Homo sapiens: one gene and its partner. The protein of the gene in region 1 interacts with the protein of each later gene in a pairwise test. Each region holds a gene or a part of one and is shown in the gene's direction. Other genes may lie near its edges.

The links.
Region 2: the proteins of BIN3 (region 1) and DNMBP interact in binary tests that used the Homo sapiens proteins (3 or more experiments, as listed by UniProt).

What each region holds. Positions count from the first base shown.
Region 1 is NC_000008.11:22,665,120-22,674,361, reverse strand, and holds the start of BIN3 (bridging integrator 3), read left to right. Parts: upstream 1-5,240; 5' UTR 5,241-5,310; coding exon 5,311-5,318; intron 5,319-9,242. UniProt on the Homo sapiens protein: Involved in cytokinesis and septation where it has a role in the localization of F-actin.
Region 2 is NC_000010.11:99,879,439-99,888,868, reverse strand, and holds part of DNMBP (dynamin-binding protein), read left to right. Parts: coding exon 1-44; intron 45-2,236; coding exon 2,237-2,569; intron 2,570-3,002; coding exon 3,003-3,182; intron 3,183-4,659; coding exon 4,660-4,858; intron 4,859-7,668; exon of another isoform or gene 7,669-7,766; intron 7,767-8,507; coding exon 8,508-9,058; intron 9,059-9,430. UniProt on the Homo sapiens protein: Plays a critical role as a guanine nucleotide exchange factor (GEF) for CDC42 in several intracellular processes associated with the actin and microtubule cytoskeleton.

The sequences.
Region 1 (9,242 bases):
TCTGCTTTCCAGAGTGAAGCATTTGGGGGTGGGTGGTGAATGGGATGAAGGGGTGGGCCAAAAGACCAGGACTGACAAGGTCAGCCTGCCCCCAAAGCAACCAGGCAACCCAGCACCATTTTCTCCCTGCTTCAGTGCCTTCCCCAGCAGGGCCCAGAGCTCCCACTTCTGACACCTTGCACCAACAGGCTAGACTGGAACCTCAGCTCTCCAGCCCCACCAGCACCAAGGTGGGAGCAAAGAGGGCCGCACTGGGTAGGAACATCAGCCAAAAGTACTAGATACTGCCCCATGGAGATGGAGAAGAAGGGAGAAGGCCAAAGGGTGGGGAGTGGGGCATGAGCACCAACCTCACCTGCCAGGAATGTCTCAACCCCAGGTAGAGCCATGAGGGCCCCAGCTCAAGGCAGCGGCCTTAGCCATACCACAGCCTGGCATGAGCTCCACATCACAGACATCCTGAGCCCCAGCTCAGGAGCTGTGTCTTCAGTGACTTCCTCTGACTTCCCCTTCTGGGTGTGCCCTGGAGCTACCTGGAGGAACAGACCATCCAGACCCAACTCAGAATCTCAGGAGCCTTGGACTCAGTGGTCCTACTGCCAGTTCTCTCCAGTGGGTACCTCCTATTGTGGGTCTGGGGCCATCTTAGAGCCTACCTGTCAGGGGGCAGCCCAGCCTGGACAGCCCTTGGCCTGATGCCCAGGGAACATATCAACCCGGGGGGATTGTTTTCCCTACTGGTGCACTCTCCCTCACTCATGTCTCCTCCTGGTTTCTGTGAGCTAATCAGAGAGAAGGAGGGGGAGGAGGGGGTGCTGCTTGCCTTCCCCGTTATCTGCAGCAATCCACGGTGACTAATGCTCCCAGTTGGTAAAAAGGCAGTGTAATCAAAACACTTTTTTTTTAGTCCTTAAAGTTAGTCATTCTCCCAGAGTGGAGGAAAAAAAAAAAAAAGCCCACAGCAGGCACCACGAGATGCAAGCTGAGAGGCCTGCACTGCTGGGTGGAACCAAAGCATTGGCTGTGGCAGCTCCTGCAGGTCAGAGGCCAGGACTCCTCCTCCTCTGGGTCCTTGGCTATCCTTCCTCCACACCCGCATTTGTTCTTGCTTTCCCCAGCATCTGGGCCTTCTGATCCCTGAAGGACGTCCATGCCATGTGAGGAGCTGCCCTTTCCTGTCACCCTGCCCGGTGCTGCCACCTGCTGGCCTGGCACTCTCCGTACTGGAGGAAGCATATAAAAGCTCCCAGGATGAGGCTGAGCTTGGCACCCTGGTCATAGGGTGGCCCTCCCTCCACCCACAACCTGGCCATTTAGTAGCGGTGCTTCTCCTGGTTCCATCTGTCTGCTGGCTTCTGACCTCACTGTGCCTTGACAGAACCAAAGGTTGTTGGAGGTCAAATGGCAAACTGTAGTGGCAAAAGCATAAGGATCAAAGCCAGGGTGCTCAGGTCAGAAACCCCACTTCACTGCTTCATGAAGCTATACTATTGCTTCATGGCTATACTTCAGCGCCATCATCTGTGAAATGATAATAATGGTAGTATCCACCTCACAGGGTTGAGGCAAGGATTAAATGTGAACTGCAGAGAATAGTGCCTGTCATGTCATGAGTGCTCAATTATTGTTAACTTATAATAAAAATAATAACAATAAAGTGGAATATAAACCATCTCATCGCTCTTTCTTGTCCAAGGCAGACATGACTAATCAATCATAGAACTTCCCCACTGATGGCAGATTCCCCAGAATCCTCAACACTGCATTCCAAGCAGACAATCAGAGTTGGCACATGGGATGATATCCATTCGCCCTCCCAGATCTAACCTGGACCTTTCCCATTGCAGTCAAGGAAAATGAGGCCCAGAGGAGGGACAAGACTCCCTCAAGCCACTTGGAGGCAGAGCCACGGGTCAGACAGGCGTTCCTGGTTCTGCTCGCTTCTTGCTGTCCTGGCTTCTGATGTGTCACTTCACCCTGACCTTTGAGCAGTCCGTGTGGGCCTCCCACCACTGGAAATCTCACCCTGATTTCCTCCTTCTTCTCCCACCCTTGCTCCTCCTCCTATGTCCTTGCCCCCCAAAGGCCCTGGGAAAGCTATTTTTCTGAGACGTCCTACTGAGCAGGTACAGAGTAGGGAGAAGTGGGGCAGTGAGGCCACAGAGAAACCTGAGGCCTGTGTCTGAATATCTGCAGGAGCCTCCCTGAGGAATCAAGACCTTTAGGGCTCCAAGAGAGCTGAGCCCACCAATTTGGCCCTATCACATTCAGTTTTTCAGCCTTAGCCCAGTGCTATAATGAAGTCCCTGACAGCCCAGGTCCAGGTTCTGGGAATGCTCACTCTTCACTAATAAGAGGTTGGCATGGTGAAAGACTCGGGGGCCAGCCCTAGACTTCTGTGTGGGAAAGGCTGGGAGAGACAGGACATGACAATCCCAGAGATGAGAGTCAGTGGGAAGCACCTGCTTACCAACTTCTGAGCAAAAACCTCCAAGGAAAAGTTGGGGGCTGATGGTGGAGCAGGTTCTGCTGCTGCTTTTCCCCTCGTAAACAGCTTTGTCCCAGAAGTAGACCTCTGCCACCTGAACAGTCTTTTACCTTCAGGCTCAGACTTCTGGGGAAGAATCAGTATTTACAAGGCTTGAAACCAGGAGTATCCACCTCTACCCAAAGCGCCTCCACTCTCAGCTTCTACTTAGAAACCCAATTTTCTCTTTTCCATTCCTTCCCTGCAGGGGCAGGATCAATCTGTATCATGCTGTCCCTTTGGTTATAAATAAGAAAGACATAGCTCCCGACCCTGCAGGCTGAGTTTTTCACAACAGTGGGAAGTGTTTGTGTGTCTCCATGTTCAGCTCCCCAGGGATCAATGCCTCATGGCACAGCAGGCTCATGGAGGAACACAGGATAGCAGGATGCCTGACTGTCCCTCCTCAGCCCAGTGCCCCTCTAGCTGAGCGAATGAGCCACAGGTAAGGAGACCAAGCAGGCACATTCCAGACAGACTCCTGGGAGGACACCATTCTTTTTAGTAACCTCAAAGATCCTGCTGGCTGCATTAAAGATTTCGAGGTGACCTGTCAACAGCACAGCCCCAGAAAAATTCATATTTAGCTTTATCCAAGATATCACCAGTTCCTCAGACCTGCCCACTTCTCTGGGCTTGCCCCTCTGTTCACCTGCCTTTCCCATTCTCCTATTTCCCTAGGGCCTCTAGAGTCAACAAGACAGCTGACTTGGAACCTTGCAATGTTGGATACTTTGGGATGTGATCTACCCACTCCATCTTATAGATGAGGGGACTAAGGCCACAAAGGGGATGTGACTTATCTGAGGTCAGTTATAGTGTCAAAGGTTGAACTGGAAATAGAGCCGCAGACTCCTCCAGACTTGTAGTCCAGAACTTATCCATTCTAGTCCTCTAGGATGTGTCTGCTGCCCTCCAGCCCTGAAACAGACTTCTACTAGGATATAGCAGTTACCTAGGCTAAAACGTTTGGAAATATTTATCCCTGTGGGGCATAACTGAGGGAGGCAGAACATGGGGAAGGGAGGAAGCAGGTGGGAAAACTATTCACAGGTGCTAACTGCCAGGAGGCTCCTAAACCCACAACAGCCCTTCCATCCGTCACACTCTCTGCAAAGCAGCAAGGACTCTCTCTTTCCCTTTACCCACACTCTCTGCCCAGGCTACCCTTTGGTGACTTCTGCTCTTCCTCTTTACTCTTCAAGGCTGCTCTTGTGCTCATTTTGGCCTGTTTCCTGAGGAACAACATGGTAATGAAGCTGATCTGCATGATGTGCTTGGGGATCCAACCTCCATTGGAAACGTCAATTGAGTCAAACTATGGACTCTCAAGAATGGAAACAGAAAACACAAATGAGAGACTGCATCCTGTGGCCCACCCTCCTACCTCTCCTGCTCAAGCCCTCTACTCCACCCTAGGAGGTCAAAACAAATCATACACTACTTCTGCTCTAGGTCATTGGTCATATTTTTCCCGCTAGGTCATTGATTAGCAACCCCCTAAGCAGTCCCTGAAACAATCCCGGTCCATCTGAGGAAGGAGAATTCCTAGAGAGAAGGTCACTGGGGGCCCAGCAGCACCTGCACGGGCCTCACTGCCTTCTTGTCTCTCTTCCAAGGCAGGGAGGTACTTAGCGGTGAGGAAACCAAGTCGGCCCAGAATCCCAGGCAACTTGTGAGCCACTAAGGCCCTGAATTCTGACTTTGGGAGACCCGAGGCAAGTCAGCTGCTTGCTTGGTCCTGTCTGTGTCTTAGCCATGGTAAGTTCCCTCTGCCTGGAGCCTCGTCACCCCTCATCTCAGATTCACCTGGCTAGCCCCGATTCTGCCTTCAGGGCTTGGCTTACACACTGGCTCCTCCTGGAAGCCTTCCCCAAAACCCCATGTGCTACTTCAGGGTCCCCTTCTAGGCTGCCACCACACCTCATTCTATCCTATCCTATAGCATGATTATAATTGCCTGCTTGTCTCTCCCTCCAGGAAAGTAGCTCTGGGAAGGAACAAGAGCAGGGCAGATACTTCTCTGAGATAGCTGTATCCTAAGGTTGGCTCGGTACCTGACACTAATATTAGTGCAACTAGTATTAGTTAAATGAAGGAATAGAACGAATGGGGCAATTTACATCATTTGAGTCCTGTAGAGGAGACCAAAGGGAAGGGCTGAAAGGCAGGGAACAACTCATACTCTGCGTCTTATTGTGTTGAATAACTCTAGGAAACATTCCAACCTGAAAAGCACCTATCTATTGATATTCAGAGCCCTGTGCCATCTTGGAAGGGAAACGTCCGTTTGTTTGTAACAGGTAATGCATGTGTGGTGTACAAACTGTAAAAGATAGGAAAGAGCATTCAGAGAATGTAAGTTTTCCACTTTCTCCATCCCAAATGGCTTCTTCTCCCACAGACAATTGCTGCCACTGTCTCTGGATTAGAAACCACTTGACAGAGGGGACAGCCCGGCTAAGGGCCCTGCATGGTCAGGTGAAGAGATCTTTAGGAGTCAGTGTTGAAGGCAGAAAACGCCCCCAGAGGTTCCCCTCATCCCCCGTTGCAGCCTGTGTGTCTAAGCGCTTGGCCAGAGCCAGAGAGTCGCCGGCAAGGGAAACTCCGCGGCGAGCACGCAGCAGCAGAAGGGTTAACGCGCCGGGCTCCGCCTCCCAACCGCCTCTTCCGGGCAGAGAGGCGGGCTTACGTCACTTCCTGGAGACTGGTTGAATCCGGAAGTGACCCTAGAGAAACGAGTTGTGGCTGAGGACCCCGGCGGCAGACGCAGGTTCGGGACCATGAGCTGGTGAGTGAGGCCCAGGCGGCGGGAGCTGCTGGACCCGCGGACCCGCGAGGCCCCTGGCCCTGTGTCAGTGCCGCGTCCCGGCTCCCTCCGGTCCCGCGCGACCCCTCCGCCCCAGAGCAAGGCCCGACAGCCCCTGCCCTAGGGTCGTTCCCTCGGTGCTTTCCGGAGTCGCAGTCTCTCAGCAGGACTCCCGGGGAGAGTGGCGGATGATCCTCTTAGCCTGGGACTCCGCGTCTGACCCGTTTTGCCGGACTCGCGTCCTCCTAGCTCCTTGAAGTGAGGGACTTCCTTGTTCCCTCCTTTTTTAAACACCCATTGAGGTGGAGTCAGTGTCGTCTTTCTCTCCTGTGGGCATCTCTGCCCCGCGCCAGTCCCTCCAGAGCTGTGGCCCTCGCTGTGGCAGCCTGGACCCAGTTCACTAATCAAAACCCACTCCCTTCTGGGTAACTATCCTCTTTGCACGACTTAGCAGGCTTCAAAAGACAAGGAAAACTTGCTTCTCTTTTTAAAGGGGCCAGAATTACACTCCGCACACACCCTTCCACTGTGGGATTGGACTGGTTTTAATCATTCCAGAGCTATTACTCACTGCCTGCCCTCTAAATAGGCATGGTTAAGTTTAAACTTATGGGAACTATCATGCCATGAGAAAAGAAGCCAGGGAGTCTTAGAGTAATAGAGTCACAATTCCAGTTGCTGCAGTATGATGTGATACTTGGGTCATAGTAGACACTTCATAATGGTGTATTTATTTTGTAAGACTCAGTTTGCCCAAAAGGCAATCCCCATTTGTTGCTCTCGATTATTTATGTTCACAGGAGAGAATTGTGACTTGCCTGCCTTCCTGGGGCTTTCTTAGAGGTTAGAGAATACTCATATGCAGCACCTTACCTTACCGTCAGGCCCAAGGACCTATATAGCCACAACCCTGGACCTCAGGGGATTCAACTATAGTGTGTGAATAAATTGAGCCCCAGAGATGTACAAGATTAATCAGCCCATGGACATAGGGAACATATTTGCCACTCTGTCCTCAGAGGCTAGTGTGTTTGTTTATGCAAAGCGCATGATAACCAGTTATGAATGAATTAAGATAACAGAATGTCCTTCAGGAAGGCTTTTGAAGCTTAATTTTGGCCATCAGTGGAGAACGCAAGCAGCTGATATCAGTCAGTGTCAGGGATACTTCTCTAAAGTAAAATGCGAACCATCTGTCCCCTCCCCCACCTGTTTCTTAGACCAAGATTGATGGACAAATGTCAGACAATCACCGCAAGCACGGGAGGAAAGCCTGAAGCAATGTCCTAATAAGCCCCGGCAGGAGCTTCTGCTTTTCCCTCCACCATTTGCTCCAGGAGGCCAATAAGGGGCTGGAGCCTTAAAAAGCTACCTTCCCTGTCTTGTTATAACCTAGTTAGTGGTGGGCAAAGCGGCAATTCTTCAGTTCCCTTTCCCAGAGGAATTACGTCCTTTCAGTGTCATTCTGGGCCCCCCAGTCTTGCAATATAGATATCCTTTTGGCTGCTGCGTCTTGAATCTTTGGAGTGTTCTTACCTAATTTTTCAAAGTGAAAATGAGGCAGTACAGATGCTTTATATTGCCTAGATTGGCCTTTACTGAACCAATCTTTCCTTCACAAGTTGGGAGAAGAGCACAGCAGAAACTAATAAAGGTAAATGATTCTCTGGGTGATCCGAAGCAGGTTGTTTCCACCTGTCTCACAGAAAGTTTCCCTTCTGAAAAAATAGTAGCCCATTCCTTAAAGGTTATCCTGTCAGGTTGGAGAGAATTGAGATTGACAACTGTCTAACAAGAGCTGAGATTTTCATCTAGTAGCTTTAATTTACCAGTACATGCACATCTTGGTATCTCCTTGGACTGAGAGTCACAGCCAGAAGGGTGGCTTTGTCCCTCAAAGCTGAGATTCCTTTCTCTTCCCCCTTAAAGGGCTTCTACGTCATCTCTTGCGTGGACCCTGACCCTGTCTCTCAAAGACGGGAACAGCACCGGCGCCTGGGCACACAATCACACTCAGTTCCTAGCTCAATGGCTGGCAAGGAGACCGGGGCTGGGTCCTTCTGATTCACTCCCTGAGTGGTTTTCCTGCCCCCAGAATGAATCCATCCATTCATGTGAGACTGGAATTCTCATTAGGGGAAGAGACCAGAGTGACGTAGAGCCATCATGGGAGGCTGATGCCCAAGGTCAAGTTCACCAAGTACATGGGCTGTGCCAAGCCATCATTAAATAAGGCACATGGCCCATGGTCCCCAGAGGGTAACCATTGTTCTGGGCTAGGCTGAGCTTTCAAAATGTCACAGTGAGAAATGTCCAATATTGATGCCCTTTGCACACTGTGGACTTTGCATGAAGAGTGAGAGGCCTTTGTTCTCTGCTTCCTCTGTGCAGGCAACCCGCCCACCCCCTGTTTGTTTAGTGGGTACCTGCTGCCTTCCTGCACCATCTACCCATCCACTCCCCATACACCCATCTGCCTTTCAGAAAAGTGACCCGGTGGTCTGTCCTACTAGGAAGAAGGCATTTGATATTCACATCTCAGATCACAGATTCACTTCTTGGCCTCAAGCCAAATGCTTCTCTCTCTCTCGCTCTCTTTTTCTCTCCCATTGTCCACCCCACCTCCCCCCGCCATTTGCCCCCCTCCCAACTTTCTCTCCTCTCCTCCCCACTCACCCCCTCCCTCCCTATTTCTGTCTCCCTCTTGTCTCCCTTTTCCCCTTCCTGTCTCTCTTCCCCATCTTCCAGTGTATACTCAGGTGGCTTTATTATGGTATGGAGAGAGGATTAAGTAGAATTAAGAATAGTGACCTCAATCTAAGCTGGCTCCAGGAATTGTAGCCTCCTGTTGAACCATACACCTTGATGATTTTAGGCTTAAACGAGGAGGAAAAGGGAGTACTGGAAGAAATCTCCCTATACCTAGGGGTCCAGTAGTTTGACAAAAAGGAAGGAAATTAGAGGCAGAGCAGGTAAGTGTGAGTAGGAGTTAGAGTGCTGCGTTCAGGTTCTGGCTCAGCCACTCACAGTGCGGCCTGGTCAAGCATTGAGCTGTTCTCTGTCTTAGTTTCTCCATCTGTAGCATGGAGTGGCCATTCCTGCTGACAATTTGCCACCTGAGCCTGCTGTGAAATGAGTGGAGTGATATTTTTCTGACTCTTCCGGGGTCTTCTACCTCTGTCTGCCCTTCACACTTTGGTGTTCCTCATGTTTGATCCTTTTTGTTTCTTTCCTGTTTTCACCCTGTAGTCCCTTGCCATCATCTTCAGGATAGAGGCCCAACTCTGGGCCAGGGCTTCTGAGGCCCTCTGGGCCTGGCTGTCCATCTTCACTCCGTGTGTTCCATCCTCCAAGCTTCTCCTGCTCTCTCGTGCCCATGTGCCTCTGGATAACTGTCCCTTCTGCCTGAAATGTTTCCCCTTCACTCACACCCTGTCCACTAGGCCAGCATCTACTCATCCTTCAAGAGTCAGGCCACGCTTCACCTTCTCTGAGGGTCTTCCCTGAGTGGCCCCTCACACCCTGCCATGCTGCACTGGGTGCCGCTCTTCTGACCTTCATCAGCATCTGTACTCCGCTGGCTGGTTTACTTGTCTGTGAGTTCTTGAGTATGGGGACTGTCTTGTGGTCATTGCTATTCCCTAGCACTGTTCCTGGCAGTCAGGAAGTGTTTATTAAATATATGAATGGGGCCTTTTTTCCCTTTTCCTGACTTGCCTCAGCTCAGGAAAAATGTTAAGATAAAAACTTGCAGAACCTACAAACCACTTCCTAAAATGAAGAGCCTCTGAAAGTACTATTGTTAAATTGACCGACACAAGTGGCTTCCAGGTCAGGCTGCCTGTGATTTCTCCTCCCCACTCCTTCTGATCCTCCACTCCAAAGTGCTTTGCTGGGTTTCTTCTG
Region 2 (9,430 bases), on another chromosome or scaffold:
AGAGGGTGCATCGCTACATCAGTGACCAGCTCTTCACAAACTTTGTAAGTAACTTTTTCTTCAAAAGTTGGCCCCCTTCCCAGGGTCATCTCAAATACATCAGCTCATGCAAGTCAGTTCCACGGACACAGGCCCTGGGCACCAGGCATATTAGTCATCCTTTAGCTATATTCATATTGGGGTTTGATATTCACAACATGACTTTCAGTTAGTTAAAGGGAGATGTAGGACCTGTGTCTGTACAAACAGGTTTTTTAAAAAATAGCTTGTGATTAATTTAGTTTCAGAGGACAAAGGAAAACTAGGCAATGAACTCTGATCAAATAAAAGCAACTATAGGAATAATAACTTGAAGAGGGTCCAGGCACAGTGGCTCATGCCTGTAATCCTAGCACTTTGAGAGGCAGAGGCAGGCAGATCCCTTGAGGTCAGGAGTTCAAGACCAGCCTGGCCAAGGTGGTGAAACCCTGCCACTACTAAAAATACAAAAATTAGCAGGGCATGGTGGTGGGCACCTGTAATCCCAGGTACTCAGGAGGCCGAGGCTGGAGAATAGCTTGAACCCAGGAGGAGGAGGTTGCAATGAACCAAGATAGCACCACTGTACTCCAGCCTGGGCAACAGAGCAAGACTCTGCCTCAAAACAAAAACAAACAAACAAACAAAAAAAAAACCTTGAAGACAAATATTTAGGAATATAGTTAATATGTTACCAAAGAGATTTGAGATGGTAAAAACTACTTTAAGTCCGGGCATGGTGGCTCACGCCTCTAATCCCAGCATTTTGGGAGGCCGAGGTGGGCGGATCACCTGAGGTTGGGAGTTGAGACCAGCCTGACCAACATGGAGAAACCCTGTCTCTACTAAAAATACAAAATTAGCCAGGTGTGGTGGCGCACACCTGTAATCCCAGCTACTCGGGAGGCTGAGGCAGGAGAATTGCTTGAACCTGGAAGGTGGAGGTCATGGTGAGCCGAGATCATGCCATTGTACTCCAGCCTGGGCAACAAGAGCGAAACTCTGTCTCAAAAAAAAATTGCTTGAAGTACTGAAGACCAAATTTCTTGAGAAATTCTAAATCCATATATATGGGATTGTTTAATCCCTTGTAGAAAAAACTGGATGGGGTTTGATAGTTTTGTAGGGATCTATAAGTGGCCTGAGGGTGAAAAAGACATGCCCACCTGGGGAGCTGACAGGTGTTCTAATTGTACATTATTTTTAATAAGATGCTACTAAGTACTACTAAGTACCTGTTTATGTTCTTTATGTATTCATTGCCTTACCCTTAATGTCTGTGTGTTAGAAAGAATTAAAGAGAAAAATTTATAATTTTTGTTTTGAGATGGAGTCTCACTCTGTCACCCAGGCTGGAGTGCAGTGGCACAATCTCTGCTCACTGCAACCTCTGCCTCCCAGGTTCAAGCGATTCTCCTGCCTCAGCCTCCCAAGGAGCTGGGACTACAGGCATGCACCACCATACCTGCCTAATTTTTGTATTTTTAGTAGAGACGGGGTTTTGCCAGGCTGGTCTCAAACTTCTGACCTCAAGTGGTCTGCCCACCTTGGCCTCCCAAAGTGCTGGGATTATGGGCATGAGCCACCGTTCCCAACCAAGAGAAAAATTCTTTGGAAGATAAAAATGGGGGCTGTGTGCGGTGGCTGACTCCTGTAATCCCAACTTCTTGGGAGGCTGAGGCTGCAGTGAGCTGAGATTGCGCCACTGCACTCCAGCCTGGGTGACAGAGCAAGACTCCGTCTCAAAAAAAAAAAAATGGGTATTACCTAGTTATGATTAAAGGTTTATGAGTGTATGAAAGTTATTCCACCTCAGATTTATGTAACAACTAACTCTGGAGTTAAATTCAAGCTATGTAGACATGTACACATAATAAATGTTACCAGGTAAACTTCACGGCTGGTTTCTAATGCACACATCATATCAGTGTGCAGCTTAGCATTTATCACCTCAAGGAGGTCAAGTGAGATTAGTGTATTTTACATACTCCTTGATGTGGGAATTGAAGGTATCTAGTGAGAAGTCTTGTGGAGTATTTAAGTAGAGGCTAGTGATGGGTTAGTAGAATACTGTTGTAGATCTGTATGGGTTTAGCTTGTGTACTAGAAACGAAGTAGGTGGTTCAGGACACAACAAAGTCAGCCTTAAGAGTGACTTGGATAATCACAAATGTGGGATGCTGTCCAGCTGAGCAATGTGCCTTTCTCGTCCCTACAGAAGGAGAGGACAGAGCGGCTTGTCATCTCCCCCTTAAATCAGTTACTGAGCATGTTTACAGGGCCCCATAAGCTGGTACAGAAACGCTTTGACAAGCTCCTGGACTTCTATAACTGTACAGAACGGGCAGAAAAGCTAAAGGACAAGAAGACCCTGGAGGAGCTGCAGTCGGCCCGGAACAACTATGAGGCCCTGAATGCACAGCTGCTGGATGAGCTGCCCAAGTTCCACCAGTACGCCCAGGGCCTCTTCACCAACTGTGTCCACGGCTATGCTGAAGCCCACTGTGACTTTGTGCACCAGGCTCTGGAGCAATTAAAGCCACTGCTTTCGGTGAGTTTCTTACCTGTTCAGTGGGATGGTCATCTATAGCCTTTGCCTGGTATTTTTCTGGGAAAAATGGTAGCATGGTTTGAAAAATTATCTGAATTAGATAAACTGAATGTGTCGCTAGTTCATCCCTCAGGAAATCTTAATCCCTTGATGGTGTCATGAAGCCTGTGGCTTCTGAAACATCTTTTCCCTCTTGAGCAGTTCCCAGAAGAGCCAGCCAACCTGGCCCGCAGGCAGTGCCCTGGAGAACTTGTGTCTTGCATCAGGCTGCTGTGTCGGTAGCTCAGAGAATGAGCTGCAGCTGAACTTTAGCTTCCAGTGGTTCTAAGGAGACTGTCAATCCGGGATCTTTCATCATGTTTTCTTCTTTTCTCTGGGATCTTTTATCGTGTTTTCTTCTTTTCTCTATCTCTGCTCTTCCCATGGACCCCAGTTACTCAAAGTGGCTGGCAGAGAGGGAAACCTTATTGCCATCTTCCACGAAGAGCACAGCAGAGTTCTGCAGCAACTCCAGGTTTTTACCTTCTTCCCGGAGTCTCTTCCAGCTACCAAGAAGCCATTTGAGAGGAAAACCATTGACCGCCAGTCTGCTCGAAAGCCACTCCTGGGCCTGGTGAGTAGGGAACTGAGAGCAGCAGCCCCGCCTCGGGGTAAAGAGGGGGAACCCTGCAGCCAGGCCCCCAGGCCCAGATCCCACTATTGGAGTTTCTGTATTTCATAATAAATGGAGAATAGTGTTGCATTCTCACCCATCATGGGCTCATGCATTCGCCATTTTTTTTTTTGAGACAGAGTCTCATCTCATTCTGTTGCCAGGCTGGAGTGCAGTGGTGTGATCTTGGCTCACTACAACCTGCGCCTTCTGGGTTCAAGTGAATTCTCCTGCTTCAGCCTCCCAAGTAGCTGGGACTACAGGCACACGCCACTACGCCCAGCTAATTTTTCTATTTTTTAGTAGAGATGGGGTTTTACCATGTTGGCCAGGGTGGTCTCGATCTCTTGACCTTGTGATCTGTCCGCCTCAGCCTCCCAAAGTGCTGGGATTACAGGCATGAGCCACCATCCCCAGGCTTTTTTTGTGGGGGGGAGGGGATTAACCCAGTATTAATTCATTGGTTCATTAATTCAGGAAACTGATTTAAGGGTATATTAATTCTGCCAGGCCTATTTTTTATGATGTATTCATAAAAGTAATACAGCTAAACAGTTAATGGTTGGCTGCCTTTTTTACCTGGAGTTAGTCTTTTTTAACCTCAGTTCTTCCATATTTTAAAAATTAGCATAAGGCACACCAGCTAGAGGACTGCTGATACATCTTTGCTTACAATATTTTTGCCCCATATGATCCCATAGACATTAATTTATATTACCTTAAAAGGGAGAATTATGATTTTTTGAGACAGAGCCTTGCTCTGTCACCCAGGCTGGAATGCAGTGGTCTGATCTTGGCTCACTGCATCCTCCACCCTCCCAGGTTCAAGTGATTCTCCTGCCTCAGCCTCTTGAGTAGCTGGGATTACAGGCATGCGTTACCATGCCTGTATTGTATTTTTAGTAGAGACAGGGTTTCGCTATGTTGACCAGACTGGTCTCCAAGTCCTGGCCTCAAGTGATCTGCCCACCTTGGCCTCCCAAAGTGCTGGGATTACAGGTGTGAGCAACCATGCCCAGCCTGAATTTATTATTACCTTTTTTCTTATGACTTCCTTGCTTTCACAGGTGGGGAAGTCAAGATAGATGAACCTAACCGAGAATGTCCCTAACAAAATACAAGAAGACCTACTAATATCACTTAGATATTTTGATTTTTTTTAAGTGGCATTTTAATCACGTTTGTCACAAGAAAACAAATGTAAGAATAGGTGTGTGTTAAATTTTCTTAACTATAAAGGCATCAAACATTGCCTAAGGGCTCTTGATTTTTACCTAGCCACATGGGCTGGCTTCATCACAAAAACATCTGATGGGAGTGAGATGGGCAGTGACTGACTGTCCCTGCCTCATTTCTGAGACTGGCCACATGTTGGGATGAAATATGGCTGCTGGGGTAGTGGCCACTGAGAGATTTTTGTTAACGTCTTACCTTTCAGCCAAGTTACATGCTACAGTCAGAAGAACTCCGGGCCTCCCTCCTGGCCAGGTATCCCCCTGAAAAACTCTTCCAGGCAGAACGGAACTTCAATGCTGCTCAAGACTTGGATGTCTCACTTTTGGAAGGTGACCTGGTGGGTGTGATTAAGAAAAAAGACCCCATGGGCAGCCAGAACCGCTGGCTGATTGACAATGGAGGTAAGAATTTTAAGCAGCAGAGGACTGTAACTGGAAAAAAAAAATAGTAGTTTTGGCTGCACCCGAATCTGGACTAGGCCAGGAAAAAAAAGCAAAAAGTATCTTTGATTAAGGGGAAAAATAACCTGAAAAATAACCTTAACCTTCTCTAGAGAGTGAAGATCATTACTGAAACAAAACCTCTTTTTGTTTTGACAAATTCCAGAGGAGACACCGTTGCTTATCATGCAAGCTCTTGCCATATCTTACAGCACTTACAGGCAGGAAGTCCTGCCTCACGGAATCCTGTTCCTTCTTAGCCTGTTCCCAGTATGCCACAAAATAAGCTGCCCTCTTTTCAAATTTTTTTTTTTTTTTTTTTTTTTTTTTTTTGTGGCAGTCTTGCTCTGTTATCCAGGCTGGAGTGCAGTGGCACAATCATAGCTTATTACTCCTGGGTTCAAGGGATCCTCCTGTCCTAGCTGGGACTACAGGTATGCCATCATGCCCAGCTAATTTTTTAATAATTTTATAGATATTACGTCTTGCCATGTTGTCCAGGCTGGTCTCCAACTTCTAGGCTCAAGCCGTCCTCCTGCCTGGACCTCCTAAAATGCTGGGATTATAGGTGTGAGCCACCGCACCCAGCACCTCTTCCAGTTTCCATGAATTTGTCTTGTGGAAATTAAAAACCTGTGGGATTTCATTTGCTTTCTTCTCCCCATGACAGTTTTACCTCATGACTATTTAGGGAATTACTTTAAAAACAGCTTACAACTTTTTTGGAGGGAGAGTGATTTACAGAATTTAAGTAAGTGTACAAGGGATAATACTGATCTGTAATCCCTTTTTCCAAAATCCAAAAAGCTCTAAAAACACTTTTGCCAAAACCTGAATGAAGGTGATGTGAGACTATTTATAATTGTAACTTATCCTTTTGGTGTGAATAGTCATGTGTATGTATTTTTCATTTTTATTATTTTTTAAGACAGGGTCTAGCTCTGTCACCCAGGCTAGAGTGCAGCAGCACGATCTCAGCTCACTGCAACCTCTGCCTTCAAGCGATTCTCCTGCCTCAGCCTCACAAGTAGCACGCACCACCACACCTGGCTAACTGTTTGTATTTTTTGTAGAGACGGGGTTTCACCATGTTGACCAGGCTGGTCTCCAACTCCTAACCTCAGGTGTTCCATCCCGCCTTGACCTTCCAAAGTGCCAGGATTACAAGCATGAGCCACGGCACCTGGCCTTATTTTTTTTTAAATGCTTGATTGCAATCTGATTCAGCCAAGAGGTTGCTCACATCATGGGTGGATGACTACATCTCCAACATGAATGACACAAAAACATCAGAACTTTCCTATTTGCAATTATGTGAGATACTTTAAGTTTTAGTTTATAACTGACACATACTTGTTCATATCTATGGGGTACGGTGCGATAATTTTGAGATAGGGTCTAGCTTTGTCACCCAGGCTGGATTGTAGGGGCACAATCTTGGCTCACTGCAGCCTCCACCTCCCAGGCTCAAGCAATCCTCCTGTCTCGGCCTCCTGAGTAGCTGGGACCAGAGGCATGCGTGACCATGCCCAGTTAATTTTATTTTAGTAGAGACAGTCTCCCTGTGTTGCCCAGGCTATAAACTTGTCATTTCTTTGCAGAGATATCATTCAGAATCCTTGGCTTCTAGCCATCTTGAAATATACATTATCATTAGCTATAGTAACCTTACTGTGCAATAGAACACCAGAGCTTATTTCTCCTAACTTTGTACCTGTTGAGCAACCTCTCCCCAGACTCACCTCCCCTTCCACCACCCCCAGCCTCTGGTATCTAGCATTCTACTCTCAACCTCTATGAGATCAACTTGTCTAGATTCCACGTGAATGAGATTATATGGTATTTGTCTTTCTGCGCCTGGCTCATTTCACTTAACGTGTCCTCCAGGTTCAACCATGTGGCCGCAAATGACAGGATCTCATTCTGAATATTCATTAACAGAATTGATTACGGGGTGCTGACCCTGCTGGGGGGTTTTACAAAATATGTAGTATGGGTACTTGACTACCTTCCCAGAATTAAAAAGAATCTGAATTCCAAAACATATCTGGCCCTAAGCATTTTAGGTAGGGATTGTGGTCCCTATCTAGACAGACATTATGTATTCACCACCCAGAACTGAAAAATGTCACATTTCTTGGTTTCTTTAAAAGCATCTTGTGGATTTTTTTTCTCCCCACTTCTGCTTACACAGAACGAGAGATTAAAAGTGGGACACGAAGGACAGAGGATGGAGCCTGTTAGGGTGACATCAGGTGACAGCTACTGCTGGGGTCAGAGACAGATGGACCTAAAGTCCCAAGCTGTTTAAGAAACTGCTCCATCCTTCAGTTTTTATCTACTCAAACTTGAGAAGTGGTAGCAGGAAGCCACAGTATTCAGATCAGCTGTCAGGTACAGGAAATGCATCAAAGATCAATAGAGTAATGGCCATTGTTCTCATGGAGGCTACATACTCTGGGTCTGTGCCTTGACAGTGTTATGAAAAATTGTCACGTGGATGCTCACGCAATCCCTAATTTATACTTGAGTTTTAGCTGAAAGCCCCCTTGGTCATCTTGGGCAATTTATTAAAGTGAACCATGTGCAGTACACGTTACGTGTATATTCTAACAAACAGTTTCCTACGTTAGAACATCCTTCCAGTATATCCAGACTCTCAGAGCAAAGGATTCACGTGTCCTGGTGGGAAAGAGGGCAGGGAGGTCTATGGAGGGGCTTCTTGAGCTGAGGCTTTTTTTTTGAGACGGAGTTTCGTTCTTGTTGCCCAGGTTGGAGTGCAATGGCATGGTCTTGGCTCACTGCAACATCTGGCTCCTGGGTTCAAGCGATTCTCCTGCCTTAGCCTCCTGAGTAGCTGGGATTACAGGTGCGCACCACCACATCCGGCTAATATTTTCGTATTTTTAATAGAGACGGGGCTTCACCATGTTGGCCAGGCTGGTTGTGAACTCCTGACCTCTGGTGATCTGCCCTCCTCAGCCACCCAAAGTGCCTGGATTACAGGTATGAGCCACTGTACCCAGTTTGTTTTGTTTTGTTTCAAATAGAGATGAAGTCTCGCTGTGTTGACCAGGGAACTGGGCTCAAGCAATCCTCTCATCTCAGCTTCCCAAAGAGCTAGGATTACAGGCGTGAGCTCCCGTGCGCTGCCGAGGCTGGTTCTTAACTCGGTCTTTTCCACACTTGCTGTATTTGAACATAGGCTTCATCAAGCCTTCCTCTTAGGCATGATCTCAGTGTCCTATGACATTCTCTTCCCATGCCGGTTCCCAGACATGGATTGTTTTCATTGCTGTCTTCTCAGTTGGCCATGGGCCTCCTGAGCATGCATCTGTTGTGAGGTTGTGAACATGAATGAACCGGCAGGCAGCTGCGGCTCTTCATCTCTACCTACACACATCACATCCTGGGACTGAGTGTTCCAAGCCGCTTTGTCACTAGGCATTTTATTTTGTGTCTCTCACTATTGGCCTGGCTTTTGAGTTTTTGTTTTACTCTTCATTTTACAGATGAATAACCTAGATCAGTTTTTTTTCTCTCAATGCTCCCTCTGTCTGTCCAGCCTTCTGCTAAGAGTTCTTGTTTATATTTCCTGTTTCCTTTGTAGTCACCAAAGGCTTCGTGTACAGCTCTTTCCTAAAGCCCTACAATCCTCGCCGCAGCCACTCCGATGCCTCCGTGGGTAGCCACTCCTCCACAGAGTCTGAGCACGGCAGCTCCTCCCCCAGGTTCCCACGCCAGAACAGCGGCAGCACCCTGACCTTCAACCCCAGCAGCATGGCTGTATCCTTTACCTCGGGGTCTTGCCAGAAGCAGCCTCAAGATGCATCTCCTCCGCCAAAAGAATGTGACCAAGGAACTCTCAGTGCATCCCTAAATCCGAGTAATTCAGAGAGTAGTCCTTCCAGATGCCCTTCAGACCCAGACTCCACCTCCCAGCCAAGGTCAGGGGACTCTGCAGATGTAGCTAGAGATGTAAAGCAACCCACTGCCACGCCGAGGAGCTACCGGAACTTCAGGCATCCAGAAATAGTTGGCTACTCCGTACCAGGACGAAATGGGCAAAGTCAAGACCTCGTCAAAGGATGTGCAAGAACAGCCCAGGCTCCGGAAGACAGAAGTACAGAGCCAGATGGCAGTGAGGCAGAAGGCAACCAGGTGAGTGCGTAAGAGGCCTGCCACTGTGGCACAGGCGGCAGCAGATGTGTTGTGGGTACCAGCGGGGGTGAGGCAGAAGTGGCTTGCCTGAGGCCTAGGGGTGATCTGAGATGAGCTCACAGACACACCTTTCAAGCACACAAGGAATCTCTGCCATCAGAGCCTTCTGAGCACCTTCCCCTGCTGATACTTCACAGGCTATTCCTGGACCCCTCTGTGTCACTGGGTGTTTAAAAGGTGCTATAATGACAACTTCATTATTCTTCCAGTTCACTAATTCTTCAGTTGTATAACATCCATTTAATCCACTTGTTTGGTTTTTGATTCAAGTAACCATACTTTATTTTTTTTTTGAGGAGTTTGTCACCCAGG